7 linked regions of the Homo sapiens genome follow. The protein of the gene in region 4 purifies or fractionates together with the protein of the main gene of each other region. This does not show direct contact. Each region holds a gene or a part of one and is shown on either strand. Other genes may lie near its edges.

Evidence for each region.
Region 1: the proteins of CT45A5 (region 4) and ANKHD1 purify together in Homo sapiens (affinity purification with mass spectrometry, with the first as the bait; one large-scale study listed by BioGRID). This does not show direct contact.
Region 2: the proteins of CT45A5 (region 4) and DACH1 purify together in Homo sapiens (affinity purification with mass spectrometry, with the first as the bait; one large-scale study listed by BioGRID). This does not show direct contact.
Region 3: the proteins of CT45A5 (region 4) and GLG1 purify together in Homo sapiens (affinity purification with mass spectrometry, with the first as the bait; one large-scale study listed by BioGRID). This does not show direct contact.
Region 5: the proteins of CT45A5 (region 4) and EPB41L5 purify together in Homo sapiens (affinity purification with mass spectrometry, with the first as the bait; one large-scale study listed by BioGRID). This does not show direct contact.
Region 6: the proteins of CT45A5 (region 4) and ARMC8 purify together in Homo sapiens (affinity purification with mass spectrometry, with the first as the bait; one large-scale study listed by BioGRID). This does not show direct contact.
Region 7: the proteins of CT45A5 (region 4) and PPP4R3A purify together in Homo sapiens (affinity purification with mass spectrometry, with the first as the bait; one large-scale study listed by BioGRID). This does not show direct contact.

Annotation. Positions count from the first base shown.
Region 1 is NC_000005.10:140,537,353-140,541,017, reverse strand, and holds the end of ANKHD1 (ankyrin repeat and KH domain-containing protein 1), read right to left. Parts: intron 3,630-3,665; coding exon 3,429-3,629; intron 2,933-3,428; coding exon 2,757-2,932; intron 2,100-2,756; coding exon 1,935-2,099; intron 1,660-1,934; coding exon 1,600-1,659; 3' UTR 1,169-1,599; downstream 1-1,168. Other genes in the region: ANKHD1-EIF4EBP3 protein, read right to left, coding at 1,935-2,099, 2,757-2,932, 3,429-3,629. UniProt on the Homo sapiens protein: May play a role as a scaffolding protein that may be associated with the abnormal phenotype of leukemia cells. Isoform 2 may possess an antiapoptotic effect and protect cells during normal cell survival through its regulation of caspases.
Region 2 is NC_000013.11:71,471,730-71,476,377, forward strand, and holds part of DACH1 (dachshund homolog 1), read right to left. Parts: intron 4,121-4,648; coding exon 3,977-4,120; intron 3,481-3,976; coding exon 3,412-3,480; intron 1-3,411. UniProt on the Homo sapiens protein: Transcription factor that is involved in regulation of organogenesis. Seems to be a regulator of SIX1, SIX6 and probably SIX5.
Region 3 is NC_000016.10:74,491,405-74,496,052, forward strand, and holds part of GLG1 (Golgi apparatus protein 1 isoform 3 precursor), read right to left. Parts: intron 3,428-4,648; coding exon 3,356-3,427; intron 1,737-3,355; coding exon 1,553-1,736; intron 1-1,552. UniProt on the Homo sapiens protein: Binds fibroblast growth factor and E-selectin (cell-adhesion lectin on endothelial cells mediating the binding of neutrophils).
Region 4 is NC_000023.11:135,778,411-135,783,058, reverse strand, and holds part of CT45A5 (cancer/testis antigen family 45 member A5), read left to right. Parts: intron 1-1,323; 5' UTR 1,324-1,329; coding exon 1,330-1,498; intron 1,499-3,417; coding exon 3,418-3,666; intron 3,667-4,047; coding exon 4,048-4,141; intron 4,142-4,648.
Region 5 is NC_000002.12:120,088,948-120,093,595, reverse strand, and holds part of EPB41L5 (band 4.1-like protein 5), read right to left. Parts: intron 3,250-4,648; coding exon 3,080-3,249; intron 2,042-3,079; coding exon 1,935-2,041; intron 348-1,934; coding exon 320-347; intron 1-319. UniProt on the Homo sapiens protein: Plays a role in the formation and organization of tight junctions during the establishment of polarity in epithelial cells.
Region 6 is NC_000003.12:138,189,828-138,194,475, forward strand, and holds part of ARMC8 (armadillo repeat-containing protein 8), read left to right. Parts: intron 1-4,648. UniProt on the Homo sapiens protein: Component of the CTLH E3 ubiquitin-protein ligase complex that selectively accepts ubiquitin from UBE2H and mediates ubiquitination and subsequent proteasomal degradation of the transcription factor HBP1.
Region 7 is NC_000014.9:91,475,811-91,479,310, forward strand, and holds part of PPP4R3A (serine/threonine-protein phosphatase 4 regulatory subunit 3A), read right to left. Parts: intron 1,177-3,500; coding exon 1,099-1,176; intron 715-1,098; coding exon 598-714; intron 157-597; coding exon 1-156. UniProt on the Homo sapiens protein: Regulatory subunit of serine/threonine-protein phosphatase 4. May regulate the activity of PPP4C at centrosomal microtubule organizing centers.

The sequences.
Region 1 (3,665 bases), on a different chromosome or scaffold from region 4:
AGTCTTTTGTGCCCCACCCAACTGCCCCCACAAAGGTCAAGGGGCCCCTTAATGATACTTGATGTGGTTATCAATCACTACAAAGTAGTAGCTTCAATAAACAACACTTTCAAAATCCATTCAAAACAAAACATAAGACATAAGCTTAATTAAGGAAGCTTTCTCATATGTAAGATGATATAGAAGATTAAAGAAGCAGGTATATCTGACACAGAACAAACATGGTGTGTCTGATGTGGTCCTGGCTTTAGGACCTGGGCAGAGAAAATTAAGAATTCCTGTTGGCATAAGCGTAGAAAGGTGCTGCTAATATAGTTCTGTCCCTAGTTACTACTCTTTCTCTGTGCATCCTTCTTTGCCTTGATATGAGTTTTGGCTTCTCCATCAGCTCCAAACATTTTCTTGTTTTCTTTTCTGTATTGCCTATACTGACCAGGAAAAATTCAGCTATATTAAAACACAAATAAGTTGATGACTATACTTTTCAGTGGGATAACTTTTCCTTCTCTATGCTGATTCTCGGCATAGCCTATGGTTTGGCCAAAGCAGCCCATTCCAGGGTTCCTCTGTTTAGCTTGTTAAACATATTGACTCTCCATGCTTAGGGCCATGGAACTAAGCCTGGAATTACTCACATATTTATAAATATTACTCAGCTGATTCAATAATACAACAGAATGACAGGAGTCACCTCCTTATGTCCCAACTCATATAAAGCTTAAAATATCTATAACCAGACAAATCTTTCAGATAAAAAAGGTCAGGAAGCACAGAAGGAACCTGAAGTTGATAATTTGGGTGTCCCTACATTTGTTTAGTGTCATCTGATTTAAATCCAATTGTTCTTATTGACATTCTCATGATCCATAGAGAAAAAACCTATCAGTGGCCTATCTGCTAGCTAAAGTCAGATAAGACACATTGCCAGAGCTTGAAACTTTCTCATATGTTAAAGGATTATGGAAGACAACAAGGGAACAAGGAATGTTTAACACAGAATAAATAGGTAAATAGTCTTAAAAGTGCTTTTTTAAGGCAGTCTAAGAAGGGACTCAAGTGTTAAATGTGAGAAGCCTGTTACAAATATAGTATTAACCATCTGGTTCAATATAATGTGGATTGAGTGGTACCTGCATGACCACTGAAAGGATCACACCCCACTTCTAAAGACTGTTCATCTTTTTATTGAATATTCTGGTAAATATTTCACATTAATACAGGCTACATTACGTAGAGCCACTATATGACAAGAAATTTACTCAACTTTTTCCTTTTAAGTATGTAAACAATTATACATGTATTTATCACCCTAAAAGGTTGAAACATGTAATCAACTAATTCTCTTCTGCATACAAGTAGTATTCTGTATGTTTAGCCAAAAGCACTAAGGTCATATGATCTTAAGTTCAAAATGGCTAAACTAACCAGAGAACATAATCAGGTGGATAGGAAATCAATTTGTTCTTATACAATGGGCAATCAAATTTCCATTGCTAAAGCCTCAGAGAAAATTTCTTAGGCACATTAAAAAAAAATCCCCATGGTTCTTCCAAGGTCATAGGTTTCTTAAACAAGGCTAAAGAGTAAAGACCTTCTAACTTAGTTGACATATTTGAGATGCATGTTTCCAATATGAGGTGCCCACGTGCCAGGCCAAATCTGAAAAGGGGGAGGAAAAATTGGAATTTCTAATTAGGAATCTTTAGACAGTTACAAAATGAATATATAAATGCAATGGCAATTCACTGTTTCTGCCTAGGAAGAATACACATATATTAAATAAAGTGTTCAGTAGCATCATCTTGATATTGAAAAAGCAATCCAGATCGAAATGGTCAATTATGACTTTTGATATTCAGTACTTATACTTCTCACAAAACAAAAAGAATGATGTGACAAATCTAAAAAACAAAAGAGCATTAAGCCCATTTTACCTGCTGGGCATCAGTGCATTCAGTTGAATTTTGGATAACTTTTATCATAGGGTTCCAAGCAGGATCTGGATTGTGAAGTCCATTAAACAGAGGGCCTCCTGGAACATCAGCAAGCTGAGGATGAGAGGGTATTATGGTGCCTCCATACATGGAAATTGGCAGACCCTAAAACAGCAGGAAAAAAGATTTAATCTTAAAATTACTATAAATTATAAAATTACTATAAATCCCATAATACCAGCTTAGACTTCTCTAATATTCCTCATTTAAAGAACTCCAAAAGATCCTATAAGTACAGTATGGCAGTGTTGAGAAAACAAAATGTTTATCTGCATCTGCAAAGCTTTTCAACAAAAAACAAGAGAGAGAAAGAAACTAAATCCAATATGAAATCATCAGGAAATTTCTCATATTTGATAAAAATAACCTCAACTTTCCCATATTTTAGTTTCATGAATAAGCTTGAGCTAAGAAGAAAATGGGAACTCTACATAATTGATTGCCGACATAAAGCTGTCAGAGCAGACAAGAAAGCATCAGTGAACTCATGGCCAGCTTTTAAGAGGGGTAGAGGCCTCCCTCAAAGCTGTAGTAGCAGAGCACAAAGTGGCAAAACCCAAATCCCTCAGGTGTTTTCGGGGGATGGGGACATCTTCAGGACAAACTACTGTGGACAACTCTGTGCACTCCTGAAATTAAGCAAAAGATCTAGCAAAGCCACAGAAACAAAAGGGAGCATTATTTCAATACAAGGTATTCCTTAATGTGACTACATTGGCTGACAAAGTGTCAATCAAGTTACAGTGATGTTTGTCAACTCACTTTAGAAAAATCCACAAAACCACTTGCCATAGGCTGATGAAAAATGTTAGAGGGGGCTACCATTCCAGAATCATCTCTCTCCATTGGCTGATGTTGGGAGAATGTGCTTGGGTCTGATAATTGTTGATGCATTGGATGGTTCCCCATCACAGATTGCGACCAACCTGATAAGCCTTCTGGAAAGAATAATTGAAAACAAAGTTTTAAATTTATTTGGATAAAACAACAAAACATTACCATTGTTATTACCAAACATGACCAAATGTTACTGAAATCTTTCCTCTGAAGAGCTCAAAGCGTATTTATCACAGTCTTGCTAGCCAAAAAAAACCAGTTCCTGAAAAACTAGGTAAAGTCCTCTGAATACTCCACTTTACCCTGTCTTTTAAAAGATTAAGTACTCTCTGAAAGAACTCAAATGATTATTTAAGAGAGAAAGGACACACACTTTGAATCTTTTGTTTCTGATTAACTCTATGTATTACCTCAACCAATATTCCAGACTCTGAAATTGGACTGAACTCCTCAAAGATATAAACACCCTTCCCTAATTGAGTGTTAAACATAGGAACTAAGTTTTTTTTGTTTGTTTTTTCTAAGGAACTAAGTTTTAATGGCAAACCTACAGCTTACTTAAGATATCCCTCCAGAGAGAGAGCAAGGCAATTGTACCTGACACAGCATTGACACCAAATGACCAGATTCCACTGTGTCCAACGGGAGCGACAAAACTGGTCCCCGCCGGGGCTTGTGCAACAGACCCTCCTTGCCGAATTCGGGCCAGTCTCTCTGTTCCAATTGGGGGAGGTATCTTTCGATCTTGACTGGCACTGACTCCTTTTGGTTGGCCCAACGTTGGTGGGGCAGAAGTGGCTGAAAGAGGTGAAGATGATCCCGAAGAAACAGATG
Region 2 (4,648 bases), on a different chromosome or scaffold from region 4:
CAACAGAGTGAGACTCTGTCTCAAAAAAAAAAGAAAAGAAAAAGAAAAAAGAAGGAAACTATGAAAGTAGATGCTGTTGCCTAAGGAGAAGGAATAAAATAAGATGACGACTTAGCTGAAGAAAGCCATCATGTTATAGATTTGGCTACATAAAATGTACGCGTATGTGCATATATATGTGTAGGGGCCAGAGGGGTTTTGAGGGATATTTACTGACTGGCCCAAAACACTGCTCGATGATTGTTTTTATGAACTCTGTCTACTTTATAGATTCAAAAGATCTTAGAGAAATTCTTGAGTAGGGTAAATTTTTCAAAGTCCAACACAAATCATGCCATATAAATCTGTGTGACATAAGGCATAAGAGAGTTAATGGCCATATATTTCAGTTCCTGGAAGAAGTTTTTTTAAAATTTTTGAATGTCTGTTCTGTACTTATAGCATTTTTACAATTCATGAATTCCTAGTTATTTGAAAATCAGCAATAAAGAATCTACCCTGCGTACTATGAGCTGATTTACTTCATTAAGAAAATGCAAGTAAATTATTTAGGGCTTCTTTCTTCAGAAATACTTTCTAAACTACTTTCTTGATTCCTCTTGTCCACCTCTGTGGTTTTATAGAAATGGTGATACAAAATGCCAATGAGGCAATATTTAGTCTACCCAGAGGTGCATATTTAGGGGTAATTACTTAGCACTCAAGCAGTAAGTATTTAAGTGCCCAACTTCTAGGTGACTAACTCTTGGGCCAAGTGTGGCATTTATTTATTGCCAGAAATGTTAAAAATACATGAAAAAATTAAAAAACCTGTGGGCTTATTTTGTCTTTCCCAATAAATTGAGTTTACTTTGGAATAGAAAATAATTTCAGTTATGGTTGGATTTGGAGCAAGAAATAATACAAAGAATGTCATAACACCTGGGCTTGGGGACAGTTGGAGAGAGAAAGTGATGAGTGTGAGAGGCTGTGTGTGTGTCATTCTTGAATTGTGAAGCAGCAGGTGCTCATGGCTCCCAAAAGGCATGACATAGACCGTTTCACAAATTAGTAATGAGTTCTGGTTCTTTCTTTTTTGCCTTTCCCTTTCTTGTCCTTAGACAACATTTAACTAAATACAGTATTCTTTCTTTGATTGCTTTTGTTCACAGTTAATTGTATTCTGTTTGTTAGCTTCCAAATGTATGAATTTTGTCTGAGGTTAGAAAAAAATTTCAAAGGGCTAATAAAGCTTATTGAATAGGGTGTTAGAATAGCAAATATGATCTCTTTGCTCTGTTATGTTAAGAGTCTTGAAATAGTTTGACTGCTGGTAAAATATCTTTTAGCAACTAACAGCTAGAAACAGATTCATTGACAGTGTTTTTTCTTATTACAATTTGGGAAAAGTCATATTATCTGATAAATATAATGAATAGTTAGTATGTTTTATTAAAAAACAACTGTACATTTTGACCAGTACAACAATGGACAGGCTGAATGAATGAATAAAGTGAGTGAGGATTTTCTATTACAATTAAAGGCAAAAATAATTCCATAAAATGTGTATATGGTTTTAAATTACTATGTATAATTGTTGTACAAATGTTTTGTTTCCCTAACCATTAAGTTGTTGGTGCATAGGTTTACTGTATTCCTCCACTGGTAAGATTCTGGATACTAAAAGGAAAGCAATTTGTGATTAAAACTTTTCTTCAGAATAAGTCAGTCACAACAATGGAAACTGAAAGTTGTCAACATTTCAGCCTCATACAGCAAGACTTTACCTATATTAAAATGTATGTTTGAACATATGTAAATTTGACAAATTCAAACAAAAATAACCATAGCCTTATTAACAACCAACATGTTGTTATGGGTGGCATACATATTATATCATCAACCATACAAAAATGTTTAATCACTTCTTAATATTAACAACGAATCTCTCATTTATATGCAGGACGATATTGTTTCAATTTTTTCTAGATTGACTTCTGACCACCTTGAGGATTCTGTGTATATCAGATGATTTATATGTCACACTTATCTATGGGCTCATGTGCTTTCTGAGACCACTTTGACATTATCTAATGCGTGAATAGCCCCTGCATGTACACATTGGTGCTGATATTTGCATTTGTCTTGTTGGTGCTATTGTCCCTGATAAAGAGGACTGGTTTTTTCATTAACAGTAATTTTGAACATGTGTATGTAAGTTTTATAAGATGCAAGAGGATTCTTTTAATTGTCATAACCATATACATACAAACACATACACAATATAATTGTGCTGAAATCCATAGTACTCTAAAAATTCAGATCTTTTTCTATATCTACAATAGCATTAATCTTGTATATCCAAGATGTCTCATAATAACATATGATTCAAACCTTAGGATTTACAAATTAATTAGAATGGCCTCAGGTAAAATAAATATAGGCAAAAAAAAATCCATTCTTTCCTCAAAAATGTTTCTTCAAGTTTGTGATTGTTACTTCTTGCACATATGATAGTTTACAAAAGTATATTTCCTTTACACTAAGCCAAGAATGACATATTTGGAGCTGATTAAGTAACACAATTAACGTCATATGATATCCTAAAAATGATTGAGTTTAAAATGCAGAATAAAAGCAATTGGGAGGATTATGGCAGTTAATCATTTTAGGCATCCCTTTGAAGAATCACCTTCATTTTAAATAGAAAACAAATGCTCTTGTTACTGTTTAGTATTCATGTTGTTAGGTTGAATTTGTCGTCTGGAATAGATGTTTGCCTATAAATGCTACCTTCTGGTTTTATTCTTTTCTAATAGTACGATCATGACAATATACATATTTAGCTCTTCTGAGCATTTAATACAACTCCCTTTGGTATGCTATATATGATTTTACTCAGCAGATTTGTGTTATTAAAGTGTATATAATGGCATACAGAACATTTGGAATCCACATAGGAACTAAACAGTCTTATTTATTGTTAACATTCAACTAGTCTATTTTGCAGGTACCTTGCAGTAACTGTCATAAAAATGAGTAGTTAGACATTTTTAAATTGTAAGAACTACCTATTTGATTAACCACATATTTTATTTATGTAGCACAGAACTTATAAACCCTTCCTGCATTAGACTGGGCTTCACACATTCAATAAAGCACATTTACTGTGTCCAAGATTAAATCATACATTGTTTAAAATTAATTATTCCTTTTAATTGCATTGTATAAACAGAGATGACCTGTTAATTTAAAGAAAATCTATCAGCACAAAATGAATTCACTCATATAAACAAGCAAGATGAACTTGACCTTGTTTGAACTTGTTTTGATGTGGCCCAGATGGTAGGCTACATGCTTGAATAGCAGGCTAAAGCTGAGGAAAAACTCATATAGCAAGATCTAGATTTATAGCCTTCTGCAAATTCCTACCTTGTATTGTCCTTTCAGCATCTGTTCTGCCGCCACTGCGGTCAGCCTCTATCTCTGGGGTCAGAGAGTCTAAAAGCACAGAAAGGTAAGAGTGACACATATTTCATTTGATTCCTATTGTCCTTTAAAAAAAAAGAGCAACCTGTTACTTTGGTGCTGAATTAAAATTACGTAAATCTTTGTCATCTTTTAAAGGTTGAACAAAAACTGTAACCGTAAGAATTTTCGGAAGATTTGAACAGTAAGCAATGCAACATTGTTCATAAAAGAGGATGGGGTTCGGAAATTCTCAAATTACTATTTTATTGTGCTTCAGTAGAAAAAAATCTGGTTAAGCAGAGAAGTAATGCCAAGTCCCAGATGCTGGAGTTCAGTAAAAAACAGTGGAAGCACCTATAAAATAAGGCATTTTCCCCAACACGTTCTTCCCACCCTGCTTTCAGCTTCAAGTATAGCTGAATGAATCACAAGATATAGAAACATACAAAACTACAAACACATGCCTAAACTGTCCTTTAAGCATTAAAAATGACAGTTATTCATGCAATAATATACACCCTCTTACCATTTAAGACCCTGAGACTATCTGTTGAAGCTGCCTGTTTTAGCGTCTGTTCTGCTTGTTCACGCCGTTTCGTCTCAAACTCAAGTGCTTCCTGCAATTTTCTCTTTGCCTTCTTCTCCTTCTTTAGCCTCTTTTGAACTATGGCTAAAAAAGAGTGTATGCATATTATTATTATTATTTTTAAATTTTCATAATGCTGCTAATTTCCAAATGGTCTATATTTTTTATATTATTCATTTTGTTTTCCTGCTGAACTGAGTCTACCTATAAAAAGAAAGTTCCAAAAATCTCCACCTTTATCTAAAATAATTCCCAGTAAAATAATAAGAAAGCCAATTTTTATTTTAGCCTAGAACTATTACATTACAAGAATGGCTTTAATTGCCATATGTAAAGATAAATTTAATAGGAAACTAATTTTAGTAAATGTTTGTATTCACTGATAAAGGAAGCTTGATTAAATGAATTTTGTGGCTTAGTTCTCTGTCCTTGAATCACAATAGTGCAGAGTCATTTGGATAGTGCAAACGCTTATAAGCATGCCTCCTTCCTATTTCCTCATAGGGCATCAATTTTGACCAGCAAATGGAGCATCTCCCCTAAAAACGCTTTGGAAAGCAATGTTAGACCAACTCAGTTTTTAATAATTTCTTTCTTAAAATTTTAGGAAAT
Region 3 (4,648 bases), on a different chromosome or scaffold from region 4:
GGCTTCTCCTGTCACTGTTCTGCATGAAACAGGTTTTATACTACTGCACTAATAATGCAAATGCTTTGCCCATGGAAATCCTATCAATAAGATAACTATTAGGGTAAAAATGAAAGCCAAAGAACAATCTCCATTGGCCTACACAATTAAAGCTTTTAGAAAAGACTACATTTAAGATATTCACTATAAGCTCCCCCAACTTCTTTGAGCTGTAAATGCCAATGGGGAAAACTTTTTTTTTTTTTTTTTTTTGAGACGGAGTCTCACTGTGTCACCCAGGCTGGAGTGCAGCGCGCGATCTCGGCTCACTGCAAGCTCCGTCTCTTGGGTTCACGCCATTCTCCTGCCTCAGCCTCTCCAAGTAGCTGGGACTACAGGCGCCTGCCACCACGCCCGGCTAATTTTTTTGTATTTTCAGTAGAGACGGGGTTTCACCGTGGTCTCGATCTCCTGACCTCGTGATCTGCCTACCTCGGCCTCCCAAAGTGCTGGGATTACAAGCGTGAGCCACCGCGCCTGGCCAGGAAAACTTAAAACAAAAAGATTAAAACAAAACAAAACAAAACAAAAACAGGTCACCCAGACGGTTTGTTTAGTGATAAAGCCAAAATTTGAAGCCAAGTCTGACCCATGTGCTAAATCATGCTACCCTGAGTCTCCTCAAAATGTTGCACAATGTGTATTTCAAAAATGAAAACTAGGCCAGGCGCAGTGGCTCACGCCTGTAATCCCAGCACTTTGGGAGGCCGAGGCAGGCAGATCACGAGGTCAGGAGATCGAGACTATCATGGCCAACATGGTGAAATCCCATCTCTACTAAAAATACAAAAATTAGCTGGGCATAGTGGTGCGTGCCTGTAATCCAAGCTATTCCAGAGGCTGAACTAGGGAGTCGGAGGTAGCAGTGAGCTGAGATTGTGCCACTGCACTACAGCCTGGTGACAAAGCGAGACTCTGTCTCAAAAAAAAAAAAAAGAAAAGACAAGAAAACTATTCAGCTGGGCACAGTGGCTCACGCCTGTAATCCTAGCACTCTGGGAGCTAAGGTGGGAGGATCACGTGAGGGCAGGAGTTTTGAGACCCGGGATGCCAACGTGGCAAAACCTCATCTCTATTAAAAAAAAAAAAAAATTGCTAGGTGCGGTGGCTCACACCTATAATCCAAGCACTTTGAGAGGCCAAGGTGGGCGGATCACCTAAGTTTGGGAGTTCGAGACCAGCCTGACCAACATGGTGAAACCCCATCTCTACTAAAAATACAAGAATTAGCCAGGCGCAGTGGCACTCGCCTGTAATCCCAGCTACTTGGGAGGCTGAGGCAGGAGAATGGCGTGAACACGGAAGGCGGAGCTTGCAGTGAGCCGAGATTGCGCCACTGCCCTCCAGCCTGGGCGACAGAGCGAGAGACTCCGTCTCAAGAAAAAAAAAAAAAAAAGAAAAATACTCAAAGAAGCAAATATGGGAGGAAACTAACGTTTATATATATAAAGCTTTAGAGTGTGAATCCAAAAAGGAACAGAAATGATAATTAAAAAAAAAATATGAATGCTACCTCTGTGTACAGCTGACTCCAGGCACATTAACAAGTAGGAGAGCCTGGCTTCACGCGATCGCGGAAGGTTTTCCACATTGCACCGGTATTTCTTCAAGTCACTTTTACAGGATTTGGCCAATGAATAACTGACTTTATAATCCTGGGCAATCAGCTTTTGGCGGGTTGTAAGTGCTTCTCGACACTGAGGAAAGAGTACAGCAACAGCCGTGAGACCACTCATGTAACTTTACTGTTGACGTGTACCACTAAGATGAGCACAGCGACTCAGCCAAGTACATGTCAACAACTGCAGTTATTACCAACATATCTATCTTTAAGTTTGGTTAAAATGTTCACAATTGAGCTAAACTAGTGTGGCATGAGACAGGGGTAAGTGGGTGGGGAACCTAGAAATTCTGTAGTCACTTGCTAGTTGTTGCTGCAATAGCAGCTATCCAAAACATGTAAATATCTCACAGATCCCAATATGTTAACTTGACACACAGCATTCTTTTCCACTTTAACAATACCCCGAACATAAATTTCACTAGCATCAAACTGGCAACTAACATAACATTTGGGATATTCTGTTCAATGCTTTAAAATACAATTATTCAATTATTCTATATCATCTGAATAATAAGATTTGAATAAGATTGTTCAAATGATACAAGAAAAAGGAAATGAGAAACATTTCTTCAGCTACACAGGAAAGTAAATGACAAGATAGCAAAATTAATTATTTCAAAAGCCATCAACTATTCTTGCATTCATTCAGGGACAAAGAACTAAAAGAGGATGCTTAATGATATAGCTGCTGAAAAATTAAATAGCTAATTGCCTAGAAAGCACATTGATTTGGTTAACCTAAACTTCTTGAGGAGGCAGGGCTGGCCTTAGTGTGGTTTTATATAAAATTCTCTGATTTTACTCCCCAAACAAAGTAATATCTGAGAATTTTATATAAAATCACACTGAGGATTTTATATAAAACCACAGTGAGAGGCGGGTGGATCACCTGAGGTCAGGAGTTTGAGAGCAGCTTGGCCAACATGGTGAAACCCCGTCTCTACTAAAAATACAAAAATTAGCTGGGCGTGTTGTCAGGTGCCTGTAGTCATAGCTACTAGGGAGGCTGAGGCAGGAGACTTGCTTGAACCCGGCAGGCAGAGGCTACAGTGAGCCGAATCATGCCACTGCACCCCAGCCTGGGTGACAGAGAAAGACTCCACTCAAAAAAAAACAAAAACAAAACAAAACAAAAACACCTAAAAAAACCACCACAGTGAGAACCCTACTTGGCTTCTCACTATCTAGATATCACAATCAGGGTTTCATTTTCTTGGTTTCAGCCAAATATGCTTAAAACCCAAGTACCTCACCTCTGAAAGCGGTGAGCTTTATCAGTCATTTACGTTTCGGTATAAGATTATAAGAAATATTGTTTCAGAGAAATTGAGAAAGCTTTTTTTTTTTTTTTTTTTTTGAGACAGAGTCTCACTCTGTCACCCAGGCTGGAGTGCAGTGGTGCGATCTCAGCTCACTGCAACCTCCACCTCCTGGGTTCAAGTGATTTTCCTGCTTCAGCCTCCCGAGTAGCTGGGATTACAGGCGCCCACCACCACGGCCGACTAATTTTTGTATTTTTAGTAGAGACGGCGTTTCACCATCTTGGCCAGGCTGGTCTTGAACTCCTGACCTCGTGATCCACCTGCCTCAGCCTCCCAAAGTGCTGGGATTACAGGCGTGAGCCACCGTGTCTGGCTGAGAAAGCTTTTAAAAAACAAATAAAACATTCATTAGTTTCAAAATAATACTTACCTTTTCACTCATGGATTCTTCAAATTTATGGTTAAAGAGGCACTTATACACTCTGCCCTCACCAGCTTGTGTCTATAAGATGGAACATACACATTATTATTACTTTAGCTAAATAGTTATGCTGAACATTATCCACAATCTCATATAGAGCTTTCTATTAAACGATTATAATCGTACATACCTTTGGACAAACAGCGCTTCCATTTATAAAATTTAATAGGCTTTTAACAAAAACAGTGACTGCAGTAAAGACGAAAAAAATATTCCCATGATATTTGGAGTTTGTCATTTGTTCTCAGATGTATTTTGTTAATTAGGGAACCAAGAGAAGTGTTAGAGTCTGAGTCTTTTTTTTTTTTTTTTTTTTTGAGATAGAGTCAGTCTTGCTCTGTTGCCCAGGCTGGAGTGCAGTGGCACAATCTTAGCTCGGTGCAACCTCTGCCTCCTGGGTTCAAGCAATTCTCCTGCCTCAGAGCCCCAAGTAGCTGGGATTACAGGCCCCCGCCACCCTGCCCAACTAATTTTTTTATTTTTAGTAGAGATGGGGTTTCACCATATTGGTCAGGCTGGTCTCGAACTCCTGACCTCAAGTGATCTGCCTGCCTCGGCCTCCCAAAGTGCTGGGATTACAGGCGTGAGCCGCCGCACCCAGCCTCTGAGTCTTCTTTCTTACAAGTGTATGCTAGAGTTAACGAAACTCTTACATCAGTGGCTCTGATGGTTAAAGCTGTTAATGCAAACCAGCAGGCAGAGTGGAAGTGTACACAAGTTACTTTCAGTACTTTGTTGTAAGGATGGAGAGACCATTCTATTTAAAGACTTAGAAGGCTGTTCTGTAGAGTCAGCAGGTGGTAATCAAGGATTTGGTTTTAAAGATTAGCCACCTGCTGTTTTCTTCACCTTAGCCAAAAACACATAAATATATAATGCGTCAAAGTTTTAGCCATTGAATAGATGTAAATAAGATCCTGGGTAAAATAAAATTCCTATAGATAAAACAGACTTCCAAGAACTGAAATTGAGAAGTGAGATAAAGCAGAAAAAATACTAAGTGGAGATCATTAGAAGCCAGCTGTTAACCAAATGTTCAGTCATCAAGGTTGAGCATCCAGTTACCACTTTCTGCTATACTGGGACCAATTTCTTCTTCCATTTCTGTGGCTTTTCTACATGTGAGGTTTCTTGATGGCTTATTTTACGTTAGAATAGAGTATTAAAAAATATTTAAGTCACAGTGGCTCGTGCCTATAATCCTAGTACTTTCAGAGACAGAGGGAGGAGATCACCTCAGGC
Region 4 (4,648 bases):
CACATCTTGATTAGATTTATTCCTAAATATTTGATGTTTTTGGAACTGTTTTTAATGACATTTGAAATCTCATATTCTAATTATTCGTTATACAGAATTGCCATTCTGTATAATGCCATTCATTATACAGAATTGCTATTCATTATACAGAAATGCCATTGGTTTTCATTGTATCTAGTAAGTTGACTAAATTTGCTTATTAACTGTAATGATTTTATTCTTCTGCATTTTTCTATGTACAGAACAATGTCATCTGTGAATAATGACAGTTTTATTTCTTTCCAAATTTTAAACCTATTGTATTTTCCTGATGATATGGCACTTTTTGGAACCTCCAGTAAATTGTTGAATGGATAGTGGACATCTTTGTCTTGTTTTCAAACTCAGGGAGAAAATACTGATACGTCACTATGAAGTATGGCATTTAAAAATTTTTTGTACATATGCTAACCAGAATAGGAAAGTTGCCCTTTTTCCTAAGTTGGTGATAGTTTTTATCACGAATGGACTTTAAACATTGATCCATGTATGAAAATGATCATGCGGTGTTTCCCTGTTTTTGTTGTTGTTGTTGTTGTTGTTGTTAATGTGGTGCACTACATTTGTCGATTTTCAAATGTTAAATCAGTGTTGCCTTTCTGCAATATACTCCACCATGGCTGATGTATGTCCTTTTTAAGTACTAGTACATTTTATTTGCTCACCCTTAGTTTGGAATTTTTGTGTCTAAGTTCGGGGTGATCTTGGCTTGTATTTTTGGCTTGATCTTGTAGTTTTTCATTCTTCTAAATTCCTTGTCAGATGTTGTTATCAGTTTTGTATCAATCTTCTAATAAGGGTTCCTAATAAGGGTTAATACACGTTGGTTTATGCATCTATTTGAATATATAAGCATAAATACTTATATATTAAATATATATGATATATAATATATAATTTAAAATATAATGTATAATAAGGGTTAATACAGATTGGTTTATACATCCATTTTTTCTAATAAGGGTTAATACAGATTGGCTTATACATCTTCAAATAGGTAATAATATTTTTATCTATTTTTGGTTGATGACAGCTGCTTATTCCACAAGCATTCTGATTGATTTGGTTATACCATCTTTCTTCTGTTTTACTTTGTGTACATTAAAATTAGGTTTCTTTTCCTGAGAACAGAGTGTTTGTTGAGACTTGGTAAATCTTGGCTCATGATTAAAAGTGAAATTAATGATTCAAAGTCTTGGTTGTATACACATATGCAGATTGCTTGCCATTTTGTGATTGTTAGATTTTTGTCATGAATAGAATATATTCATTGATGTTTTTCAGGAAACAATGACCGATAAAACAGAGAAGGTGGCTGTAGATCCTGAAACTGTGTTTAAACGTCCCAGGGAATGTGACAGTCCTTCGTATCAGAAAAGGCAGAGGATGGCCCTGTTGGCAAGGAAACAAGGAGCAGGAGACAGCCTTATTGCAGGCTCTGCCATGTCCAAAGAAAAGAGTAAGTAAGCCTGTCCTCACGTCCTCCTCATGCTCCTGCCTCATCCCCTCCAGAGAAACTGTCCTTGTCAAGGTTAACAGTTTCGGCTGACATTGCCATTAACTTCTCAGCAGCATTTGACAGTTGTTCACTCGCTTCTTCATGAAAACCTTCTAGGATTTCCATTTCCGACAATCTTTTTTTTTTTTTTAATTTCTTGTCCGTATTGGTGAATCCCTATCATTTTTTTCTTGAGATGGAGTTTCGCTCTTCTCAGCCAGGCTGGAGTGCAGTGGCGCGATCTCGGCTCACTGAAATCTCCGTCTCCTGGGTTCAAGTGATTCTTCTGCCGCAGCCTCCCGAGTAGCGGGATTACAAGCACCAGCCACCACACCCAGCTAATTTTTGTAAGTTTAGTAGAGATGGGGTTTCGCCATGTCGGCCAGGCTGGTCTGGAACTCCCCCCCTCAGGTGATCCACCCACCTCAGCCTCCCAAAGTGCTGGGATTACACGCACGAGCCACCGCCCCCGACCCCATCATTGTTTTTTTCTACATTTCTTTTTCTTCTCTTCTCTAAATACTGTAAAAAATTCCTGAACCCCAGCATCTCTCTCTCTCCTTCTATTCCACTCTGCCACGATCAATCACTGAGCTCCTGAGATACCTCCATGTTTCCCATTATTTCCCGCATCAAACACATACCCTCCAACCCTGCAGCCGGGTCATGATGTTGGCATGTAAATCACGTGATGCCATGTCGCTCCTGAACACCCATCCTCAACACTCCTAAGCACTCAGAACCGACTGCGAAGCAGCTTTGGTCTGCGAGGTTCTGCGTGGCCTGGCCTCCGTCACCCTCTCCTCACACGGGCCCCATCATCTCCTGACTCTCTCTGCTACTGTCCTTCACCCCATAGTGCCCGGTCCATCCCCACTCCAGCCCATATCCTTGGCCTCACCGCAACCTGGAACTCCCCCTCTGCCTCTGCGCAGGCAGCTCTGCTTTTTCCTTCAAGCCCTGCCCAAGGGTACCTCCACAGAAGGCTCTGCCCAACCAGCAGCAGCTCCTGGGGCTCCCTCTGCTGCTGTTGCCCACAGGCCTGTGGACTGCTTCCTTACCACTAGCCCAACACTGTATGTTTCATTTGCTCATTGTGCACGTACTGTCTGACCGCCCCATGAGGATGTGAGCTCCACAAGGGCAGGGAACGTTGCTCTCTGGGCTGTTTACTGCTGATCCCCAGCTACCGGCACGCTGCCTGCCACAGACGATGAATAAATGAGAGGTGTCAGACCTGGAGTGAAAAGAAAGTCACTTTTGTGAGAAAGAAAGGAAGGATGAGGAAAATCATACAGTAAAAGGGACTTTTTGGTGGTGGAGTGCGTATAGAACTTTTAGCAGTAATGGCCGCCTCTATTTTCTCAGAATGTGTTTGATATAACAGGAGACCGGTTGAGTTGTATCCCAGTTGCCTGGGTTCCAGCTCAGTAAAGCATGGCAGTTTGTAAGTGAATTTGAGAAATCATGATATCAAGTGAGACTTGCTGCTTTCAACTTGTAAAGCATAACAAGCTGAAACTGTCCCATGAGTACCAGGGATCTGTGAATGTTGCTTTAGAGTTGTACTGCCTTACTTGGTTTCCATGTCTATTCATAGGGCCAGAAAATAAGAGGTGGTTTTATTGTATTATGTGTCCTGGCCTCCGTTTGTCAGGCCTGGGATTTCTCCCTGGTGTATCCTCCCATTTATGAAATAAATAATTCCCTAGAAACTGAGGAGCACATAGATGTACCCAGAGGGGTGATGAAACACACATATCTCACAGCTCAGCTTCTCAGTTTGATTTCCAGAGCTGTCATTCATGAGGTCTATGTGGAGGGGAAAGAAAGTGGTCAAACACCAACTGATGGCTTTTACTCAAAATCTGTTTCACCAGAGCTTATGACAGGACATGCTATTCCACCCAGCCAATTGGATTCTCAGATTGATGACTTCACTGGTTTCAGCAAAGATGGGATGATGCAGAAACCTGGTAGCAATGCACCTGTGGGAGGAAACGTTACCAGCAGTTTCTCTGGAGATGACCTAGAATGCAGAGAAACAGCCTCCTCTCCCAAAAGCCAACGAGAAATTAATGCTGATATAAAACGTAAATTAGTGAAGGAACTCCGATGCGTTGGACAAAGTAAGTAATATAAGAATGTCTGTTTTATAAAACTATAGGAAGTCTCTCTTTCTATGATTCAGAAGATATTCATGTTGCCTGTTGAGTTTCATTCTTTGCCAGAGTTGAGATTGCACATAATTTATGGTGGTTCCTCTTTTCTTTGACTAAAGCATGTACATTTTTTCTTTTTCTTTTCTTACTTGGTTATGGTTAAAGGAGTTACATTCGTATGTATGTGCAGGTGTCTTTTTTATTATTTAGGTTTTGTATGTGCAGGTATCTTGATTTAAGCATTTAAAACATTTCAGCCTCTGAAGCATGATTGCTGAGGTGTAGATTCACTTCTATTCTTCTTTATATTTGATAATACTGAAGTTTTTTTTTTTTCAACATCTTCAGAATATGAAAAAATCTTCGAAATGCTTGAAGGAGTGCAAGGACCTACTGCAGTCAGGAAGCGATTTTTTGAATCCATCATCAAGGAAGCAGCAAGGTGGGTAGAAATAGGAACTGTCCAATTTCTTTAAGCACTTGGGCTCAATAGAGCACTGGGGGTGAGCGTTGGGGAACAGCCCCTGCCTTGCGTTTCTCAAACCCTGGTCCTCACTCACAGTTATGGCTGTCTCCACAGTTACTTAGGCTAATGTTATCTGAGTGTAACTCATTCTTCGAAGACTATGGAGACTTCCATTTTCACCATAGTCTGAGGTGCGCATTGTCCCTCAATTGACACTCTTTGTATTTGCTAGACTACCTCTTTTTAAAAAATTTGTGTAGGCACATAGCAGATGCATATATTTCTGGGCTATATGAGATATTGTGATACAGACAACAATGTGTAATAATCACATCAAGGTAAGTGGGGTTTCTATCACCTCAAGCTTTTATCCTTTGCGTTACAGAGAATACAATTATACTCTTCATTATTTTTAAATGTGCAATTAAATTATTACCGACTATAGTCACCCTGTTTGGCTATGAAATACGACATCTTATTTAT
Region 5 (4,648 bases), on a different chromosome or scaffold from region 4:
ACCTTTCTCCTTTGTGCTTCTTATGTATAAGGATCATAATTTATCTTAAGATCCTCAGCCACTTGCCAATAACAAAGGTATGTCATTCTCTTTATGAATGGCTCATCTGCCTCGACCCCATTCTTTACTTCCTTAAACTGCTTTAATTTTTCATCATGTCACTTTTATCTGGCATTACATGTTCATTTATTCCCTGACATATCCCTGGTGCTTTACGGACAACTTGACATTTTGATAGGTCTTAAATATTTGTTTAATGATAGCAACTACATAAATCCCAAATTCTATACCAATTCCTAAGTTGCAAAACATTACTTACCTAAGTTCTTCAGGTTTTGTAGCACATGCTAACAGAAGAAAAAAGATAACACCTCATTAGTTTCATCTTACATGATAAACTGCTGCACTATTCAAAGCAAAACTTTAACTAATTGCTTTACAAGCCATGTTTCACAACCATAAATTTATTTCTTTGAGAAAGGGTCTTTCATGATTTTGTAGAGATAGGGGTGGGTCTCACTACTGTTGCCCAGGCTGGTCTCAAACTCCTAAGAGTTGAGCTTTTGGGCTCAAGCAATCCTCCCACCTTGGCCTCCCAAAGTGCTGGGATTAAAGGTGTGAGCCACCACATTTGGCCCCAACCATAAATCTAAAAACCTTCAATTCACCAAAGTGTTTTGGGATTCACACCATAGAGGCAACAATGGCAATTATTTTCATTTTTCAAATAAAGCAATACAATGCATATATATCTCCTCCTTTTAAACAGAACCAATCTGTAAGCCTCCAGAGTGAGCTGACTGATTATGAATTATCATCAGTGGAAACCAAGAGGAAACTTAGGGTTTTAAAATCATCACAATTCATTTATAGCTGTATATTTAATTTACAGCCACACCAAAACTTATGAGTATAAATCATTTTTATAAAAAAGTCAATACTGCCAAACATCAGATCATTACAGCTGTTTTTGGACAACTGGTGATGACTCTGACAGTGGAAATACTTAAAATTAAATTTGCATTTTAATGCAAATTCATTTTAATGCAAATTCAGTTTAAAACCAAACACAAGGTTTAATTTATTTGTCAAGGTAAATAGTGCTTTTTCTTATATAACTGATCTTAATCAGCAAGTAACAATTATGAATTAGGAAATGTCTATGTATAACAATGATGAATATATTTTAAAATGGTATTTAATACAATCCTTAATATTATAATACAATATGAAATAAATTTTACTTAAAAAAAATTCATCACAAGACAATGTTTTGGCCAGGCATGCCTGTAATCCTTTTAGGATTCGGGAGGCCAAGGTGGGTGGATCACTTGAGGTCAGGAGTTCAAGACCAGCCCAGCCAACATGGCAAAACCCCATCTCTACTAAAAATACAAAAATGAGTCAGGAGTGGTGGCGCATGCCTGTAATCCCAGCTACTCAGGTGGCTGAGACATGAGAATCACTTGAATCTGGGAGGTGGAGGTTGCAGTGAGCTGAGATCATGCCACTGCACTCCAACCTGAGCAACAGAGTGAGACTATCTCAAAATAAATAAATAAATAAATAAATAAATAAATAAATAAAAATGTTTTTAAAAATTCCTAAGGGGATTAAGGGATGTTTTAGAATGAGATCTGTAAGTCAAAAAGGGAGAGAATATGTTGCTCTACAGAAACAGTTTTGTATACAAAAACTGAACATAACCTCAGACTATCATTTGAATTGGGATTAACATAAAGTTTAATCTCTGCTAACAATACAGGCAATTTTTCTCTGTGTATCCCATGAAATTGATTCTGCCAGAAAAGTACTTTAGTTGACTGGAACAGACCTGAGGAGGAGATTCAGGTAACTTCCTCTTATGGAAACAACACCAGCACATAATTAATTGCCAAGGAAAAATAATCCTTTGAAAGAGGGTTGCACTTCACCTTTCATTTGTAGAGTTCGTCTAGAATATCGTTTGCTGGGCCTTCTTTCAAAGGATGTTGATCTTCTTGCTTTATTGGTTTTTGTGGTCTGATACTCTGTTTTCCCACTAAATGAGGCATAACAGAAGTAAGGGAAATTTTAGGTCTACAGTAATAAACACACACAAATAAGACAGTCCACATTCAGGTTCTCCTTAAAAGAATCATCCTAAACTTCATCGCACAGGAACAGCTACTAATAGTCTCGATCTCTCTCTTTACCATATCATTCTTTCGGCTTTTGTGAAATATGCAACAGATTATGTTGGTTTTATTTTTCTCATATGCATGCATATCACCTAAGTACACATTAAATAAGTTTGAAATATCTGTCCTTTTATGGAAACTCCCTCTCTTTCCCATCTACATTCCTCAGTGCAAAGTGTGTAATTAAAAGAATATTTTCAGTTACTTTTTCTAATTGTGATATTCACTTTTCAGTATAATTTTCCAGAAATGTTTTTTAAGACTACTGTCTTATTCTCCTTGATTTCCATTTAAATTCTGTTTAGAAAATGCCTCCTTACTTTTAATATAAGTAGACTACAGTACTACTTCTATTAACTCCACACAATCAACTGGCCACATTATTGGTACAATCCATTCCTTCTTTAACTGATTTCCATGGCATGCAGAAAACTCACAACCAATAATCCACTCTGCAGTAAACCAAAACATTTCTAACTCATGACAACAAACAAGGAGTCATGAGAATAATGACCTTCAGGTTTATAAAGGACCACAAATGTTATCCAGACTAATATCCCATTCAGTGCAAGAAACCCTTTTCTATATGGTATCCAGTGGTGGGTGGAGAGTCCATAAAACTCTTGTTAAATAGATAAACTGGGAGTGGGTTAATATATAAAGTAAACATCCAGAGGGATATAAAAGCCATTATACAATTACTGTTTACGCATCTATTCAAGAAATTATAACCAATAACAATACCACTTTTTCTATTTTATTTTGGCCAATGGAAGACTCTGGCAAACCACCTTATTCCTCTATACCTTAGTTACCATATCTGTAAAAAAGAGAAGATTGGCCTAAATTTTTTGGCCTGTATGCAATGAAAGACAGATAAAACAGCAATTAAAATTAACCTATATCTAAATCGTGATCCTAGTCGAATAAATCCTGATCGATGAGAACTCTTTTGGACGGGGCCTCGAAGGCGGAAGAAAGCATGATGCTCCACAGCACATTTCCATAAATGTTTGCATGCTTTTGGATGATCCAGTCTAAAGACAAATGTATGTTCCTGTTCTTTGCCCTGAAAAAGAAAAGTATATATAAAAGGATGATTACTAATTCAAACAGTCCTATCTCCTATTTCTGAGATACAAACACATCCATGAATAAAGGATCTAGTGTGCTCCCTGAAATTCAGACACTCTTTATAGTATCAACATAATAAGGGCAGAGCTGAAATCAAGTTGCTCATTTTATCAGCCAATACAAAATTATTCCTAGGAGTTATTCCCCTCTACTTACATGATCTCATTTGTGAGAGAGACATAAAATGAGATTTTATCTGCCATTATTTGGGATAACTGTATAATTATAATTTGAGGAATCATATCAGATCTGGCAGTATGCATCAACAGCCCTAAAAATGCTCACATTTTTGTCATAGTAATCACACTGCCATGAGTCTAATTATAATAGTTAACATTCATATAGAAATTTTTCTAAGGATTTCACATAAATTATCTCAATGAGTAGATACTATCATTAGCCCCATTTCATAGATAAGGAAACTGAGGCTCAAAGAAATTAAGCCCAAAATCACAAAGCTATTAAGAAAGAAAACCGGAAATGAACTTAAACATTAGTCTTGCTCCAGAATCTACATACACCTCTAACAACTAAGTTATACTGCCTCTCTGGGGAAAATTATTTCCTAAACATCAAAAGTTATATATGAAGATGTATATTTCCTCAGTCTCATTTATAATAGTAAAACTTGGTACAAACCCTAAACGTCCAAAAAAAGAGAAATGGTCAAGTAAATAGAGGCATATGTAAAAAATTATGCAGAGGGATAAATGAATAAATGATGAATGAATGAATGTGCTATTGTTTATTCATATTACACAATAGCATATATATATGTTAGATCTACATAGGTACACGTTTAGATAAAACAGGCAAGCTGCAAATATATATAATTATGCAAGTTTTTAAAACAATTCTAACATGAGTTAATATTTGGAAAAAGTTACAAAATATATATGAGAATAATACCCTCCAAAATTGGTGACCAGGTACCAGAAGAAAGGGGGTAGGTAGTCAGGGGGTTAGACTTTAGTTGGTATTATTTATTCATGCACATAATTGTATTTATCTTTCTCTAAAAGAGAACTGAAGCAAAATGTAAAAAATGTTAAATCTAGATCATTAATAAGATGGTTATCTATTTTATAATTTTTGGTACTTTTCAGGTTATTTAAAGACACTATTAAGACAGTAAAGATGGATACGCTAATTACCCTGATTTGATAATTACACATTGTATACATGTATCAAAATATCACTCTGTATGCAATAAATATGTACAATTATTATATGTCATCTAAAAATAAAAGTGGTGGAAAAAGGGCAAAACAAGGAGTAGACGATACTTGCAACACTAATATCTGACAGAGAATTAATATCCAGAACATACAAAG
Region 6 (4,648 bases), on a different chromosome or scaffold from region 4:
ATGACACCCATCGCTTCCAATAAAGCACATTCCTTCTCCTAAGGGGAATTAGTTATGAGTTCCCAATTTCTGTTAATGGTGTTATCTTTCACTGATAAGTAACTGTTAAACCTCCTGAATAATCTCTGATTCTTCCTCCTTTCATCCCCCTGTATCTACCAGTTGTTAAGCTCTGTTGCTTCTTTATTCTTAGTGTTTCTTATATCTTTCTCTTCCCATGACCACCCTCATTCAGGACTTTGTTGTTTTGTGCCTGCACTACCACAGCGTCCTTTTAATTATTTTTACTGTCTTTAATGTCTTACACTCTCAGTGCAAGTCCATGTCTACTTAAATTTTCCTAAAGAACTCTTCCTACAGCCGCTCCTCGGTTTCTTTTCTTGATTGAATTTGTTTTGCCCAAAGGCCCAAGTTTATATTCAGCTTCAGAGTTGAGATTCTTTATTTTCTTATCTTTTTTTTTTTTTTTTTTTTTTGAGATGGAGTTTTGCTCTTGTTGCCCAGACTGGAGTGCAGTGGCGCAATCTCGACTCACTGCAACCACCGCCTCCGGGGTTCAAGCGATTCTCCTGCCTCAGTCTCCTGAGTAGCTGGGATTACAGGCATCCACTACCATGCCTGGCTAATTTTTTTGTATTTTTAGTAGAGACAGAGTCTCACCATGTTGGCCAGGCTGGTCTCAAACTCCTGACCTCAAGTGATCCACCCACCTTGGCCTCCCAAAGTGCTGGGATTACAGGTGTGAGCCACTGCACCCGGCCGAGATTCTTTATCTTCTACATGAACCTGCTATCCTGTATAAACCGGCTTTCTCAGGTTAGAGTGATACAGAATTCTTCCAAACTCCAGTAAATCTTATTCTTCTTACTCATTTGTACATATGAATTTTAACTTTGTATATATATATTCTGTACATCTACTTTGAGCTTCTGCCATTTGCTAGGCAAGCATGGTGTTGAGTTTGGGAATACAGCCGTAAGCTACACAGACCTCTGTCCTTTTGGAAATGTTAGCCTAGTGGGAAAAATAGATATCAAATAATCACACAGTTTGTGAATGGTGATTAGTATTATGAATGAAGTATATAGGGTGCTGTTCAAAACATGTCATAGAGGAAACTGATCTAATATGGAGGGCAATAGGAAGAACTAGGGAAGGTTTCCCTGAAGAAGTGATGCTGAGCTGAAAGTTCAAGGATAAGTAAGAACTAACTAGAAAAAGTGACAGAAGAAGAGCATACAAGGCAAAGGGAACTGCTTTTGCAGAGGTCTTTAATAATACTCTATCTTGTCGTATTAGAGAGTAAATTAATTCAGAAGTAACACTTTGTCTTGCAAATCCTAGGTACTCAGTAAATGTTTGATTGAACTATCTATTTTGGAGGGTTGGACAAACTCTCCAGCCCTGTTTCTAGACTGCACTATGACCACCCCATCCCTCTTTGGTTTGCATTTAACATTACAACATCACCCTTTTCAACAAATTCATAAATTTCTGCAATGTTTTCTATACTTTTGAATTATGTTGATTGCATTTTTAAAAACATTTATTTTGAAATAATTATAGATTCACAGGAAGTTGCAAAGATAGTACAGACAGGTCCCTGTGTACACTTCACCCAGTTTCCCTCATAGGTTACATCTTATATAGTTACATTATAGTATCAAAACAAGGAAATTGATCTTGGTATAAGTATGTATCTGTTTCTGTATCATTTTATCACATGTTTATTTGTGTTACCATTACCACCACTGTCAAGATACAGAACTATTCCGTCACCGCAAAGATCTCCCTCATATTCCCTCTTTATAGTCCCACCTACCCAGCCTCTCCCCGCAACAGGTATCCCTAACCCCTGGCAACCATAATCTGTTCTCCATCTCTATAATGTTGTCATTTTCTATAATGTCATATGAATGGAATCATACAGTATGTGACTTTTTGAGGTTGTTTTTTGTCACTCAGTATAATGCTTTTGAGATCTATCCATATTGTTGTATGTAGCAGTAGTTCCTTTTTATTGTTAAGTAGTATTTCATGGTGTGGATGTACCACAGCTCGTTTAACCATTTACCTGTTGGGCGTTTTGGTTGCTTCTAGTTTTTGGCTATTATAACGTAGTATGAACAATCATGTACAGGTTTGTAAGGACATAACTTTTCATATCTCTGAGCTAAATGCCCAGGAGTGCAATTGCAGGATCAGATGGTAAATGCATGTTTAATTTTAAAATAAACTGACAAACTTTTCCAGAGTGGCTGTACTATTTTACATTTCTACCAGTAATATATGAGACATTGTTTCTCTGTATCCTCACTGCCATTTGATACTGTTATTATTTTTATTTTAGCTGTTTTAGTAGATGTGTAGTAATATCTCATCATGGTCTTAATTTGCATTTCCCTAATGATTAATAATGTTGAGAATATTTTTATTATTTATTTATCCTTTTTTTTTTTTTTTTTTTTGAGACGGAGTCTCCCTCTGTTGCCCAGGCAGGAGTGCAGTGGTGTGATCTCAGCTCACTGCAAGCTCCGCCTCCTGGGTTCACACCATTCTCCTGCTTCAGCCTCCTCAGTAGCTGGGACTACAGGTGCCCGCCACCACACCTGGCTAATTTTTTATATTTTTAGTAGAGACGGAGTTTCACTGTGTTAGCCAGGATAGTCTCAATCTCCTGACCTCATGATTCACCCTTCTCGGCCTCCCAGAGTGCTGGGATTACAGGCTTATTTATCCTTTTGAGACAGTCTTGCACTGTCACCTAGGCTGGAGTGCTATGGCGTGATCTCAGTTCACTGCAACCTCTGTCTCCTGGGCTCAAGCAATCCTTCTGCCTCAGCCTTCCAAGTAGCTGGGACTACAGGTGTGTGCCACCATGCCTGGCCATGTAGACGGGGTTTCACCATGTTTCTCAGGCTGGTCTGGAACTCCTAAGTGTAAGCCATACTCCCAGCTCAGCCTTTCAAAGTGTTGGGATTACAGGTGTGAGCCACTGCACCTGGCCTGAAAATCTTCGCTTATTTGCCATCCATGTTTTCTCTTTGGTGAAATATTTCTTCATGTCCTTTTGCCCACTTTCTAATTGGAGTGTTTGCTTCTTTACTGTGGTGTTTTAAAAGCTCTTTATAGGTTTTATTTTTATTTTATTTTATTTTTGATATGTGTTTCGCTCTTGTTGGCAAGGCTGGAGTGCAATGGCCTGGTCTCAACTTACTGCAGCCTCTGCCTCCCAGGTTCAAGCGATTCTCCTCTCTCAGCCTCCCAGGTAGCTGGGATTACAGATGCCCACCACCATGCCTGGCTAATTTTTGTATTTTTAGTAGAGATGGGGTTTCACCATGTTAGTCAGACTGGTCTCAAACTCCTGACCTCAGGCAGTCTGCCCATCTTGGCCTCCCAAAGTGCTGGGATTACAGGTGTGAGCCACCGCGCCGGCTTATCTTATTTTTTGAGAGAGTTTTGCTCTGTCATCCGGGCTGGAGTGCAGTGGTGTGATCTCAGCTCACTGCAACCTCTGCCTCCCAGGCTCAAGAGATTCTCGGGCCTCTGCCTCCCAAGTAGCTCAGATTACAGGCGTGTGCCACCGCGCCCAGCTAATTTTTTGTGTGTATTTTTAGTAAAGATGGGGTTTCGCCATGTTGGCCAGGCTGGTCTCAATCTCCTGGCCTCAGGTGATCTGCCCACCTTGGCCTCCCCAAGTGTTGAGATCATAGGCGTGAGCCACCGTGCCCAGCCAAAAGCTCTTTATATGTTTTAAATCTGAACCCTTTGTAAGATAGGTATTTGCAAATATTTTCTCCTAATCTGTAACTTGCCTTTTCATCCTCTTAACCACAATTTAAGATGAACCTTGATCTCATACCTTATACAAAAAGTAACTCAAAATGGATCATAGATTTTATCATAAAATAAAACTTTTAGAATAAAACAGGAGAAAATCTGCAGAACCTTAGGTTTGGTGAATAACTTTTAGACATAACACCAAATGCATTACTTATTAAAAAATTGATAAATTGGACTTTACCAAAATGAAAACTTACGCTCTGTGAAAGACCCTGTTAAAAGGATGGTTGCATTTAATTTTGGTCACTTTGTAATGGTAGAGAGGTAAGGTAACAAATTGTCTTTGAATCACTTTGTAGGCTATTATAAACAGCTGGGCACTTGTTGATTTTTAATTGTCTTCTTTACAGTCCTTTCCCAGTGGCATTACGTCTTTTTTTTTTTTTTGAGACGGCGTCTCGCTCTGTCTCCCAGGCTGGAGTGCAGTGGCGCGACCTCAGCTCACTGCAACCTCCGCCTCCTGGGTTCATGCCATTCTCCTGCCTCAGCCTCCCGAGTAGCTGGGACTACAGGCACCCACTGCCACGCCCGGCTAATTTTTTGTATTTTTTAGTAGAGACAGGGTTTCACTGTGTTAGCCAGTATGGTCTCGATCTCCTGACCTCGTGATCCGCCCGCCGCGGCCTCCCAAAATGCTGGGATTACAGGCGTAAGCCACTGCGCCCAGCTTTTTTTTTTTTTTTTTTGAGACGGAGTCTCTGTCGCCCAGGCTGGAGTGCAGTGGCGCGATCTCGGGTCACTGCAACCTCCGCCTCCCAGGTTCACACCATTCTCCTGCCTCAGCCTCCCGAGTAGCTGGGAC
Region 7 (3,500 bases), on a different chromosome or scaffold from region 4:
CTTGCTGGTTATTTTTTGCTCTGTTAACTTCTTACTTACATCATCATTCTGTTGTGCCTCCTGCATGACAAACTCTCGTACCATGGATGGATTATATTCAACCAAGTATGAGAATATATCAGTAGCAGCACTTCGCACCTGTGTATCATCCATGCCCTGCAGACAAAAAACATTTATTTTTCCTGTATTTATAAAAATACGGAACCTATAGCTATGTAAATATCCAAACCTAACAAAACATATGAAAAAACTTCAATGTAAAAGAAAGGTCAAAGAAATTCTTCTGCATATAAAACTCTTATTGTACGGATAAAATTATACTTTCTAAATCATTTATTTGTTTGCCTATTTTAACATTTCAGCTAATAAGCTGCAAAGCTGACAAACTATCATTAAATTATGGGAAATTCCTTTACTGCATTCTTTCAATACTGTGTGAAAACTGTCTAATATTGGAATTTTACAGCTTCTTTAACTTAATGAACTACGCAGCTAATTTCAAATATTGGCTATAATAGAATATTTGCATGTAGCATTAAAAATATTAATTTTGGGATTAAAAAATGGTAATTAAAAATGAGGAGACACAAAACTTACAAGGATGACTTCTAAAGCTGGTAATATGCCCATGTTTGACAAAGTCTTGAAAAAAGCATCTCTGTTTTGAGGCTGTAGCGTTTGGGAAAACGCACAAAATTCTTTTAAAAAGTTAACCTGAAATTAGAAAAAAGGATAAGTGATATAAAAAGTTTATTTTATTTATTTATTTATTGAGACGGAGTCTTGCTCTTGTTGCCGACGCTGGAGTGCAATGGCACGATCTTGGCTCACTGCAACCTCCACCTCCCGAGTTCAAGCGATTCTCCTGCCTCAGCCTTCTGAGTAGCTAGGATTACAGGTGCCCGCCACCATGCTTGGCTAATTTTTGTACTTTTTAGTAGAGATGGGGTTTCGCCATGTTCGCCAGGCTGGTCTCAAACTTCTGACCTCGTGATCCACCCACCTCGGCCTCCCAAAGTGCTGGGATTTACAGGCGTGAGCCACCAAGCCCGGCCAGTTGTTTTATTTTTATGCCTTTCATAGTATCTAATTTCTTACCAATTCCTGTCTTTTTTCCTCATCTGTTGCTTCATCTGTTAGTTGTGCAAACAAATCTGTCAGAAATTTTTCATCTTCCTGTGAAACAAAGGACAAATGCAATTATGTTAATGCTAAGATTGTCCTAAAATATAATTTCAGGAATGCTTTAATATACACAGCAATAACTATAAAAAGGAAAGGTGGTATTGGCAATGCTGTCTTTTTTTTTTTTTTTAACAGAAGGAAAAACCACACTATTAAAGTATAAAATTTTGTCAAGGCTCTATTTTCTAAGCCTATATAAAGGCCAGGTAGTAAATATTTTGAGCTTTGCGGCCCATGTGATCTCTACTACGAGTACTCAACCCTGCTCCAGTAATATGAAAGTAGTCACAGACAACTGGAAATGAATGGATATGGCTGTATTTCAATAAAATATTACTTACAAAAATAGCAGGACCAACACTTGCTGACCCCTCACTTTCATAGGTTTTATAACCTTATTAACTTTTAAAAGGTAGTTCTACAACCTCTCAAATGAGAATGAAAATGAAGACAAAGCTACTTTAGTGTTTTAAAGATACAGAGAATGACTCAATTATTTAAAAAGCAAAATTTAGAACTTTTTGTTTTACTTCCTCATTTTATAATTGAGACTTGGATTTTAAAATTTACCCAAGCCCAATTAAGGTGGCAGAGCCTTCATGATTGTCCGGTCAATGTTTCTCATCACTATTTTTTCATCAAGATCTTGGCTTTTGTTTTGTTTTGCTTTTTGAGACAGAGTCTTGCTCTGTCACCCAGGTAGAGCACAGTGGTGCCATCTCGGCTCACTGCAACCTCCGCCTCCCAGGTTAAAGCAATTCTCCTGTCTCAGTCTCCTTAGCAGCTGGGACTACAGGCACACACCACTACACCCAGCTAATTTTTGTACTTGTAGCAGAGATGGGGTTTTGTCATGTTGGCCAGTCTGGTCTTGAACTCGTGGCCTCAAGCAATCCACTGGCCTGGGCCTCCTGAAGTGCTGGGATTACGCACATGAACCACCATGCTCGACCAAGATTTTAATTACTACCTCAGCTAGTGGAAGTAGATTCAATACCACTTAAGCCCTAGACATGCCTCACTCTAAATACACATACACATGGATGTATATACAAGCTCCCACTAGATTACTGGCTCCACATTCACTGTTGTGAGTGCTCCAGAAAAATCTTCTGTGGCACTAAGTTAGTTTGGTTATTCTCACCTTTACTTTTTCTAAAATGAACAAATAGGTCATACCTCATTAATATGATCTTGACCATGTTTGCTACCCAAATGGCATCCAATTTCAAGACACATCTCCAATATACTATATTCTACCAAATGGGTATCAAATGGTTAAAAAAGACATTCTCTGAACTGCTGCAGTTGGGGGTACAGAAATAGAGAAAATAAGAATGTTTATGGTACTACAAAGGAAGCAGTCAATGTTAAGAGGGTGTGATATTTATTTTGTGTGCATGGGGCTATACAAAGTGGGCAGGAACCTGCATTAAACTGTACCTCAATCACTTCTTGCCAAAACATTTGTAAAATGCTACAGCCTTCACAGCAGCACTTTGGATAGAAGTGTCCAGCATCAAGAGAAACAGACATATTGGCAGCCAGTATTTTACAAAGCACATTACAGGGAAGCAAAGATTTAACAACTTGAAATTATTCATACTTAATGAATAAAACTGGCATTTTACATGTATGAAGACCAAGAAAACACAGAAGTGACAAATCCCCACATAACAAAAACAGAACCATATGGAGCTAAAGAAAAGGATCAGGAGAACTCAGTATTTTAGTTCATACTTTTCCTTTTTTTGCCTATCACTGGCTAATATTTTAGAAATACAAAATTTTCTAAACAGGAACAGACATGATTAAACATACTGCTTTATATGTAATGTGTGCTACCAGGCAGCTCTTACTACATTTATTGTCTTCCTTTCTATACTTAACAAATTCAGGTTTCAAATAAATTTTACTTATACACCTGAGGTAAAGTCTTAAAAGATCTTCCAAGTCATATTACACTTATCTGCAGCGGTGCGACCTTGGCTCAATGCAACCTCTGCCTACCAGGTGCAAATGATTCTCCTGTCTCAGCCTCTGGAGTAACTGGGATTACAGGCATGTGCCTCTGCCTCCTGGATTCAAGCGATTCTCCTGCCTCATTCTCCTGAGCAGCTGGGATTACAGGTGTCCACCATCACGCCTGGCTAATTTTTGTAGTTTTAGTAGAGACGAGGTTTTGCCATGTTGGTCAGGCTGGTCTCGAACTCCCGACCTCAAGTGATCCACCCACCTCAGTCTCCCAAAGACCTATTATTCTTACAATACCACAGGCATCAAAGAATAAAAAACAACGTGTGTGTGTGTGTGTG